Regions from separate parts of the Homo sapiens genome. Here region 2 is linked to region 1. The links come from fine-mapping of genetic effects on gene expression. A gene starts in region 1. The other region holds a variant in brackets. All regions are shown on one strand. Distances are from middle to middle.

Region 1 (5,378 bases):
TGTTTATCAAGTTAAACTATCTCACCCCCGGCAGCTTGTTTTATTTTAGGACCCTGATCCCGAAGGAATGTTTACTCAAGACACAATAATGTTTACCGTTTACCAGGAAAACAGATTGGGTATTTGCAAGGAAGTGTCTTTCAAAGCGACCCCCAGCCCACGTCGACAGCGGAGAAATGAGGTGGGATCCGAGACGGGGAGGCATCTCCACCACCAGGGAGGCAAAGTGGACGACAACACCGGGGACTGGCCGGGATTAACCAAAAGGACGCGCGCAGGGCCGAGCCGACAGCACTGCTACTCGCTCCAGTTTTTAAAAGCGATTTCGCACAAGTAATTGTAACAGCTAAATTAATTACAAAATAATTAGAATTGATGCCTTTTGAGGATATGCTGATGGTGGTGAGAACCAGCCTTCCACATCAAGATGTTTCATTTCTACCTTCATACTTTCTTTTAAAAGTTTTTAACAGCTGAAATGCAAATTAAAAATAATCTACAAGGACCTTCCCCATTCCTGCCCTATGATGTCGCATTTCACACTAACCTAGCCTAAGGTAAAGAAAAAAAAGGGGAGAGAGGTGATGTTCAGCTGTTTTTAAAAGGGTATTAAGGCCACCATTCCTTGGCCTTCAGAAAGGCTTTGGGTTGGAGGGAGAGGAAGCATCTATAGGACCCCTTCAGAAATCCAATTATGTTGTGGATTGATTATTGCCATATAAATGAGATATCTTATTTGAAAATATTATGAAAACAAAACTATGTATTATCTATCAGATGAACATAAATAAAATCCCACTGCAAAATGTAAAGTGCCTTAACATAAATTTTAAAACCAGCTGGGTCTATTTACCACTTCCACTTAAGGAATGAAAAGAAATAATTTCAAAAATCTAAGATTTAAATGTTAAAAAGAGGGATGTTTGGAATTTACTTACTTTTCAAAGGATAATTGAAATGACCAAGAACTCTCTCATTTGGGAAGTTTTCATTGTGGAAGATACAAGTCTAGTCATTTTTTAAAAAAATTTAAAGACTGCTGTTGTTTCGGTTTCTTTTTTTAAATGACAGCTTACTTTATCTACAGAAATGTCTGGTCATTTAGATTTAATGGGTTGATATGAATGATATCACTCACATCCTGATTTTATGTGAAAACTAAAAGAAAAATAGTAACACAATTTAAATTAGGCATACTATTTCCTTTCTCCAATTAAAATTTTCTTACACTCAAATTATGAATTTAAAAAGTTTGAAAAGGCCATTACTTGAAATTCCTTGATTTTCTGGGGAGGAGAAAAGGCAAATAAATACCATTTAAAAATCTTGCCATTTACTTCAGACAACTAAATAAAACACTAGGCTGGGCATTTTAAAAATTTATTTACAAAGTTGTGTACAACACGATGGAATAACATTTAGAATACCATATATATTCATTCATATATAAACAGACTTTTATAATAGAATGACACTTTTTGCCTTTTTGAAAATTTTTTATATTTAAAATCTCCCAACGTCTCTATACATTCTTTTCTCAGATAAAACTTCGGAGAGTGAACCTTCAAAAAAAATGAAAGTTCAGAGCTCTAAATCTACGGAATTTGTTTTTTCTTAAAAAAATAAAAACCCCAAAAGGAAAGTCAATAATTTTTTTACAAATATATACAAAGAATTTCCCTCCCATCCCCACGGTACTAAGAGCAGGCGCCGTCGGGGTGCATTTTTGGAAAATTCGGTTTTCGGTTTTACCTGTATGGAAAGCTATCCCCGGCGGGCGCGCGGTGAGTTTGCTCGACCAGCTTAGGTGTGCGCGAGGGGATGGAGGCCGCGGAAGGTAGGCGTTGGGGGCTCAGGGGAAAGGAAATTGGGGAGAGGCAGAGTCCAGGATTGGGCAGCGGGACCGGGACCGGGCTTGGGACAGGGCGCGCAGCCTGGAGGTGCATTTGTTGCTCGAGGCCGCCGCCGGACCCTGGGTCCCGGCCATTGGCGCGTCCCTATTGCGCCGGCCATTTGGCTTGAGCGGCGGCCGCAGCAGCGGCGGCGGCCGAGGCTGCGGGCTGCAGAAACTGTCCGGAGAGTGGCACGCTAAGAATGGGCGCGATGGTGGCAGTCGTCCGGCTCAGCGACAGCGGTTGGTGGGTGGCCATGAGCGCTGCCGACTGCACGGTCCCGGGTGGCCGCAGAAACGACTGCGCCGTGCTGCCGCCCCCTGAACCCCCAGTGCCGCCGGCGACCCCAGCGCCCACCGCCGAGCCCCCAGGAGCCGCGGGGCCCCCACCTATGATGTTCTCGATGCTGAACGACGGCCGCGCGCTTGGCTCGGACTTGATGAGCGACGCGGTGGTGCCCGCGGCGCCCGCTGTGCCCGCAGCGGCCGCGGCGGCGCCCAGGCTATTGAGCTGCAGCTGCAGGCCCGGGCCGAGCTGTGAGCCGAAGGCGGCCGCTTTGCGGCCCAGCTCGCCCGAGGGCAGCAGCGGCACAGCGGGAGGCAGCACCGGTGCCACCGGCGGCAGCGCGTACGGGTACTGGAGCGCCGCCGCAGCAGCCGCGGCCGCCGCCGCTGCCGGGTGCGAATAGGCACCGGCCGCCGCCGCAGGGTGCAGGCCGTAGGGGCGGCCGTAGGGTCCCGCGGCGCCGGCCGCCGCCGCCAGGCTGTAAGCGCCGAAGCTCTGCATCATGAGCGCCGTCTGCTCGCGCAGGTGCTCCTGCTGGTGGCGCTTGAAGCGTTTCCGGCGCCGCAGGAAGCTGCCGTTGTCGAACATGTCCTCGGACTGCGGGTCCAGGGTCCAGTAGTTGCCCTTGCCCGGGTTGCCCGGCTCGCGGGGGATCTTGACGAAGCAGTCGTTGAGTGAGAGGTTGTGGCGGATGCTGTTCTGCCAGGCGGGGAACTTCTCCCTGTAGTAGGGGAAGCGGTTGCTGATGAACTCGCAGATGCCGCTCAGGGTCAGCTTCTTCTGCGGGCTCTGCAGGATGGCCATGGTGATGAGCGCGATGTACGAGTAAGGCGGCTTCACTAGGCTGTTCTTGGGCTTGCTCGGGGCCAGGCCTCCCGCCGAACCGCTGCCCGCGCCAGGCCCGCCGCCGCTCGCGCCGCCCTCCTCGCCGCCAACACCGCCCTTGCAGCCGTCCGCCTCCGGCGCGCCCACGTCGCCCCCCGGTCCGGCCCCGGCTCCGGCCGCCTCCTTGGGCAATGTCAGGGGCTGCTGGTGGGGCGGCTGAGGCTGTCCGTGATGGGGTGCCGCCGGGGGCACCTCGTCCGCCTCGTCCAGGCGCAGCTCCGGCGGCCCCGCGGGGCTATCGCAACCTGCGTCGCTGTCCTTCTCTTCCAGCCCGTCGTCGCCCTCGCCCACCACATCGATGTCCACGTCCTCGGCCGTCAGCACCGTCTGGCCGGACATGTCGCTGGCGCTGCCGCCGCCGGAGAGGGTCATCCCTCCTCGGGGTTGGTAGCGGCGGCGGGGAGGGGGCAGCGGGCGATGAGGGTGTTCGGGGGCTGCCACGGAGCTCAGGGGAAGAGGGTTTGAGTGCCCCCGAAAGATGGGGGGCAGGGAGAGGGGAGGGGGCCGCAGGTGGCTTGGGGCCCGCTGGGCTCAGCTCACACTCGGCGGCCCCGCATCGCGTGGCGCGGGCTCTGCCGTCCGCCCCCAGCGGCCGCGCTCCGCGAACTCCTGCCGTCCCTGGCGCTCGGTACTAGGCGCTCGCTACCGCTCCCGGCCCCGGCGGTTCTCCACGCCGCGCCCCCTCACTTAGCCCGCCTTCCTCGGCCTCTGGCCCTGGCGTGGGGCGCAGGAGCGGTCCAGGCGGGCGCGGGACGCCGGGCGCCGAGCAGCTCGGGAGGGCGCGGGCAGGGACAGTAGCGGGGGGGCAGGGGGCTGGGTGTCAGGGACGCCGAAGCCCCGGTAGTCGAAAGTCCCGTTTTAAGGACTGGCCTGATAGATTACTTTCTACTTAAAGATCCAGCGGGAGGCGGGGCCACGTGACCGTGCGTGACGTCAGGGCCGCGGCCGAGCCGGCCAAACTCAAGTTGGTTCAGGGAATTGTCAACAAAGGGACGAGAGACGCGCAACTCCGCTCCGCACTGTGCGCCAGCATCCCCGGGGCACGGAGGGCGCTGCGGCCCGCCCGGAGACCCCCCCACCCAGGCTGGATCCGGGCCCTGGGGCCCAGGGAGCGGGTGGGTGTGAGTGTGGGTGGGTGTGAGCGAGTCAGGGCGTGGGCCTGGGAGCGTCCGCGGGACTGTGCGACTGTCGCTGCCCTGCCTTCCCCGCCCCCTCTCCCTTCCGCCCTTCTCCCCCCCACTTTGTCACACTCCTTAGACAGGGACTGGGCGACCTAGAACGAGGTTCCCATATCGTGTTTTAAAAAGCAAAACTTAGTCTCTGTTTTGCTTTTTGTTTCATTGTTTTTAGCTTTAAAGAGTAAGAGCAGCGCACCCGGCTCCCTCCTGCTAATTAGATTTCAGATTCCCCTCTGGCCTCAGTGCTCATTCCGGGGAAGACACCTGCTGAGATGTCTTTTTCCCCCTCCCCCAACCAAACCACTCAGGTCCTACCTGCTCTTTCCCGGCTTGATGCGGGCGTGTTTTCCTGTATGTATTTTTTCGTGCGGCCACAAAAAGCATCAGCTGGGGTTCCCGAAGGTCAGAAAATGGCTATTGATTAATCTACTAGAATAGTTGCCGAGAGAAATAAAAACGACGTAAAATAGCAGGGAACCTATAAATAAAGAAGCCATAACTGGCTACTTGGAGTTGTTAAACGACTTAGCATATGAAAAAATCGGAAATGAGGCGCTGGGGAAGGAGCTGGGATTGGCAGCGGCCTGGGTAAGTCGAGTGGATCCGGGAAGAGGCCTGGTGTCTTCAGGTTAGACGCAGCGCCCAGGGGCGGCTGAAGAAACGTGAGGGGTGCGGGCAGTGACTTCCCGGGCGGCGGGCATGGCCTTGGGGGAACCTGGGCAGACTTGGGCATGCCAGCATGCTGGGATCTCCGTTGCTGCCAGCTAACGTGGATTTTCTTCTCTTAAGGTGTGGACAAATCCTCCAAGATTTAACTTCCAAGAAAACCGGCGGCGGAGCGGGTGGAGGAGGCGAGGATGTGTGGCCAATGCACGCGGAGTGCAAGGCAAGTCAGTGATAGTAGGAAAAACTGTGGGGATTTCACTGGGACTGGAGGGGGAGGCACCGCAAACCGACCCCCAAGTGCGTGGCTGGGGTGCGTGGACCTCACACCTCCAAGGAAAGTCAGTGCTCTTGACGCGGTGAATCAGCGATGCGCCTCCTCTTTCCTCCCTCATTTAGGCCGCCTAGTTGGGAGCCGCAAGAGCCTGCCTGGTGTGGCAGGCACACGGAACCCAATCCCTGTCTGTCCGCTGCG
Region 2 (5,378 bases), 220 kb after region 1:
AGATAAAGGTTTATTAATTGTATCAACATTTTTACTATGTTATCAGATATGACATAGCTTTATATACCCAAGAGTCATGCTGAATAGCCAAGTGAATTAGGCTTAGAAAAAAATCGTGTCTCAATGTGGAGGCTGCTCATGTGGAAATGAACAGGATGTGTCATCCTTGCGATGGATCAAGAGGCCAAGGTGCTGAGAATAAGCACTGGACCAAGAATCCAAAGACCCGGTTTCAACCCCAGGCTTTGTCATGTAGTGGCTGTGTGTCTCTATGCAAGTTAAGTAAGTTATTGGACTAATTGTTTTTGTAATCTGTGAAAGAAGACAATGTCTAATTCATAGAATTGCTAAGAAGATTAAGTGTGCTGGCCTATGATAGTTCCTGGTCCATACTAAGTTCAGACATAAATGTTTGCTGAATGAATAGAATACTTCCCAATGCATTATACTTTTTCTGGTTGATCCTGAGCTAGAATTCTTTCCATTCATTCATTCATTCATTCATTCAACGTATACATATGTTTGCTTAAGAAGGTTCAGAAACTGGTTTCCAAGCCACATTTTGAGAAATATATTTTTGGATTGGAAAAGAATGAGCTTTTGAAATCACTGAAGCAGGCAACACAATATAGTAGATAATAACAACAACAACTACTACCAGTTATTGTGAGCATACCAAGTGTCAAGCACTGGGAAAATGTTTTCCCCATGTGATCTCATTTATTCCTATTACAGCATCAGAGAAGGTAAGTAAGTTCCCAAGGTGGTCCAGTTAGTACATTGAGGGCTAGGATTTTAACCTAATTTTCAGGACTCCAAAGACTGTGTTCTTAATAGTTCTAATAATAACCTTCATCATGGGATTGTTATTGGGTCCAAATGATATACACCATATATAGACATGTTTTATAAACACTAAAGCTCTGTATAAATGTCCATTTACTATCATTATCAGAAAGTGATTGACCTGATGACATTCCACAGGGTCAACTGTGCTTCTGGAGGTAACTGAATGCCAGCTCTGTGTATATCTAAAAATTCTGATTATTTTATGCATTTTTTTTTTTTTGGCCTCTGTTTTATTCGAAGAACTGTTTTCTTTTCTCTACACCTGATCTTTCCAAATTAGATCTGTCGACAGGGTGGCTGAATGGTGAGTGGCTCTCCTGTGTCTTTCTAGGGATGCCCCTGCAGAGCCATGCCGAGGATAACTGAGGGAATTATGGAGAGCTGGCCACACTCTGCTTCTATTTGTTTTGAGCCTGGGAAACAGCAGCTGTCCTAAAATCACCCTGATTCAGAATTCTTCCAAACCAGAACACAGCAGATTCACAAGAATCAAGTGATAAAACTCACCACATTCTCATTTCAGAGGGGAGGAAAGAATCCCAAATGTAAATTTCAGTTCTCTGTGTTCCAAGTACCCCCCCTTCCATTCCCTGCCAACATCTTATTGGCATTCGACTTAAAAATGCATTTTCATTTTACATAATGGATTAATCACACCATGGATTTTTTCCTAATTCATGTCCTTAGGACATATATAATATCTGTTATCTAAGAAAATGTTTATTTGTTTTGTTCTATTGCCCAATAAGCTTATTATAAGTTCAGGCTAGTGTGTGTGTGTGTGTGTGTGTGTGTGTGTGTGTGTGTGTTTACACAGAGAATGTACCACATTAAAACCAGGAAAAATTATCTTTTAAATTATTCCTTGATGTAGAGCAAATCAATCCAGTTTCTTATACCTACTGGAGAAGCACAAATGGTGCTGGAACATCTTCAGAGTGGTTTATGCCCTTGGCAGGTCAATCAGAGGGTAGCTGAAACTGAAGAAGTCATACGCCATGGTGCCAGCGGAAATGAAAATTATACCACTCATACTAACGAGTGCATTTCCAAAGGGACTATTTAGCGGTATTAGAAGTCTCTAAGCAGATGCCTCTGAACTTAAAATACACTTAATTCCTAAGAATTGTCTTGTAATTAATTTACCCAGATAGACTCAATGAGGAGAATGTAGGGCAAAGCACCACATTGCTCAGCAGTTTGCAAACTTCAGGGAACACTAAGATAAATAATTTGATTTTTTTAAACTTCTAAATTCATTTCCCTTATAACTGAGAAACAGGAATGGCATACAGTAAAGAAAAGCACTTTCTGATTCTATAATATAATCTCCTTAAAAAAATTCTTACTACTGTAACAGGAAGGATTCCATGGAGCTGAC[A/G]TCAAAAGAATATCACTCATGCTTTGGATATAGCTTTTATGCCTATTAACTTGTCTGTCTGTAAACATTTCATTGAACGTGGGAAGCTAGCTCCTGACTGTTTTAGTTATACACACAGTGCTGTACAGCAACAAACAGCTTTAACATACCTCCCATTAACACAGCTTGTATTTCATGAAGAACAGCCAGGTCTCATGTGACTGCTAACAGCTGTATTTTTCTAGTATTGAGGAATCTAATTTAAAAAGTGTTCAGATTTTTTCGAGGTTTTGGTAAAAATTTGATAAAACAGTTCTATCTCTGGAGGTTAAAGGTACAGTGGTGTGATCTTTGGATGGGCCACTATATCAATGGGGAGGTTCTTTTGTCAAGCCTTTTGGGTTTTTTTTTTTTTTTTCTAGCAGCTTAGACTTTGGACCCACTTGGATCAGAGTCCCAGTCTGGTTCTCTCTTTGACCTTAAGGAAACTTCTTAACCTATATAGGACTCAGTTTAATTACTTATTAAAATAAAATGATGATAATGATAACAATAGGTGGCATTTGAAGGATGGGGAGGTAATGTACATAATTTACCCTAAATAGTGCCTGGTACAGACTCTATAGGTAGTAGTTTATTATTACCATCTGCTTTTACACCAGGTCAGCTTACTCATTTATTCTATCCCTTAAAAGATATTTATCACACACTTCCTCTGTGCCCTGCAGTGTGCATGGCGTTTTTACATATCTCATATCAACCTTATGAGTAGGTTTCATGATCACCATTTCATAGATGCAAATACTGAAGCTCGAAAGGTTAAGGAATGTGCTCAAGGTCATATAGCTGGTAAGGAATGCAGCCAGAGTTGGCACCCACGTCCACCTTTAATAAACCCATATTCGTGTTTACTAGGCATGAAGCACCAAACTAGGCACTAGGGAGACTGAGATGAATGAGACATGCCTCCTCCACTTCCAAAAACATCACCTTCTATTTGGGGTTGAACAGAGCAGAGGGAGCACCAAATAAGCCAGACCATGACAAATTCTATCATTGTGGTATGAAAGAGATGTTCAGGATCATCACAGAGTATGTAACTAACGACGGGAGAAACTGGGAAGGAGGTCACACAGGAGGTGACTTTTGGAGCTGGATCTGGAAAAATGAATGAGATTTAACAGATAAAGAAGGCAATTCCTTGTAGAGGGAATCTGCTACACAAGGCATGAAGGCTTGGGGTATTTGAAGGATGTTGAGGAATCCTGAGTTTACATCCCCACCTCGTGTCCAGTGACACTGGGCTGGTCATTCTCCTTTCGTTTCTTTCCATCTTTCCTTCCTTTCCATCTTTCGTTCCTTTCCATCTTTCCTTCCTTCCTTCTTTTCTTTCTTTTTTTTTTATTATTATACTTTAAGTTTTAGGGTACATGTGCACATTGTGCAGGTTAGTTACATACGTATACATGTGCCATGCTGGTGCGCTGCACCCACTAACTCATCATCTAGCATTAGGTATATCTCTCCATGCTATCCCTCCCCCCTCCCCCATCCTTCTTTTCCTTCTTTCTTTCTTTCTTTCTTTTTCTCTTTCTTTCTTTCTTTCTTTGTTTCTTTCTTTCTTTCTTTCCTTCTTTCTTTCTTCTTTCTTTCTTTCTTTCTTTCTTTCTTTCTCAGTGTCTCACTGTGTCACCCAGGCTGGAGTGCAGTGGTGCAATCATGGCTCACTGCAGCCTCCAATTCCCAGGCTCAATGATCCTCCCACCTCAGCCTCCTAAGTAGCTGGAACTACAGGTGCACATCACCACACCCGGGTAACTTTTGTATTTTTTGGAGAGATGGGGTTTCCCCATGTTGCCCAGGCTGTTCTTGAACTCCTCAGCTCAAGTGATCCACCTGCCTTGGCTTCCCAAAGTGCTGGGATTACAGGCATGAGTCACTGCACCCAGCAGTTATCCACCTTTCTGCCCCTCCATCTGTTGGAATAAAAACACCGGGTGACTATGGAGATCAAAAGATGAGTGCATAGAAAGCATGTAGCACAGTACCTGGTACAATAAAACTGAGCTGCTGTTTTATACCTCGATGTCTTTGCTCATACTGTTCCCTCATGCCGTAGTGTATCACCACCTTCTGAGACCTCCCACCTCAGCTAACTTCTCACCCACTTACTTCCTCTCATTATGGCTCAGCAGAGGGCTAATATGCCCTGGAACGGTGCTTCTCACCTTTGGTGTATAAGCAAATCATCTGGGCATCCTGTTGCCCAGTGCAGATTCTGATTTGGCAGGTCTGGAGTGGGGCTGGCTTTCTCACAAGCCTCCAGCTGCTGCTGCTGCTGCTGGTTGCAGGACCACACTTGAAGGAGTAGGGCACTACACAGTGTTTCCCAGAGTGGCATCTGCATTTCTAGCAAGCTTCCAGTAATGCCAGATCTACTGGTCCACAGACTATACTTTGATGAGTGAGTCTAAAGCACCATATCAATGTCCATTTTTCAGAGTCCTTCAATGAGCAGAGCTTCACCTTTCTTTCCACTCTTTTCTTCTCCTTCACAGAATGATCCGTTCCAGCCAAACTGGACTCATTTGTGTTTTCCTGAGTGCACTGTCTGCACTGCTCTGGACAGCTGTACTTGAACCCTGACCTTCTCTGTGACCCACAGAGGCCTGTGCACACCTCCATCATGGCACTTACCACGCTGTGTTGAAATCCATATTTACATGTCTGTCTCCACTTCCAGACTATTAGTCTACTAACTATAAGTTACAATCTATACTTTAATAATGACCACGTTACATTTTTACTATCAGTGATGTAGCAAGAAGGTGGGGTGTTGGGAACGGTCATTGTCTTCATATCCTAGGGCTGCCATAACAAAGTCCAACAAACTGGATGGCTTAAAACAATAGAAATTCCATTGTCTCATAATTCTGGAGGCTAGAAGTTTGAAATCAAGGTGTTGACAGGGTTGGCTCCTTTGGAAGGCACTGAGGGAGAATCTGTTCCCTGCTGCTCTCTTAGCTTCAGATGGTTGCTGGCAATCTTTGACATTTCTTGGCTTATAGACGTCTTATTCCAGTCTCTGTCCCTGTCATCACATGGCATTTTCTCCTTGTCTGTGTCTATCTCTGTTTCTTTTCCTCTTCTTCATTTGGAGAAATAAGAC

Alleles and levels. Alleles are on the strand shown, and positions count from the first base shown. SD is a standard deviation of normalised expression in the study named.
For the expression in skeletal muscle of the gene that starts at base 2,052 in region 1, G is the high allele of the variant in region 2 and A is the other (moderate effect, 0.62 SD a copy in GTEx).

What was found. PIP is the estimated chance that this variant, and not a neighbour inherited with it, causes the effect. A credible set is the group of variants that fine-mapping cannot tell apart.
Region 2: its variant is the best candidate, but not a certain one, in a credible set for the expression of FOXD3-AS1 in skeletal muscle (FUSION, PIP 0.84).

What each region holds. Positions count from the first base shown.
Region 1 is chr1:63,321,115-63,326,492 of GRCh38, reverse strand. FOXD3-AS1 (FOXD3 antisense RNA 1) reads left to right here and starts at 2,052. Exons shown (of 3, transcript NR_121637.1): 1 at 2,052-2,138; 2 at 5,030-5,126; 3 at 5,303-5,378. It overlaps FOXD3 (forkhead box D3), which reads right to left and starts at 3,926. Exons shown (of 1, transcript NM_012183.3): 1 at 1,365-3,926. The coding sequence starts at 3,434. The coding sequence ends at 1,998. RefSeq lists an enhancer at 2,796-3,485 and silencers at 3,809-3,888, 4,009-4,318.
Region 2 is chr1:63,096,335-63,101,712 of GRCh38, reverse strand. No RefSeq gene overlaps it. Among named protein-coding and RNA genes, the nearest start is that of LINC01739, 87 kb to the right of the region's middle. The variant A/G (reference allele first, on the strand shown) is at 2,231.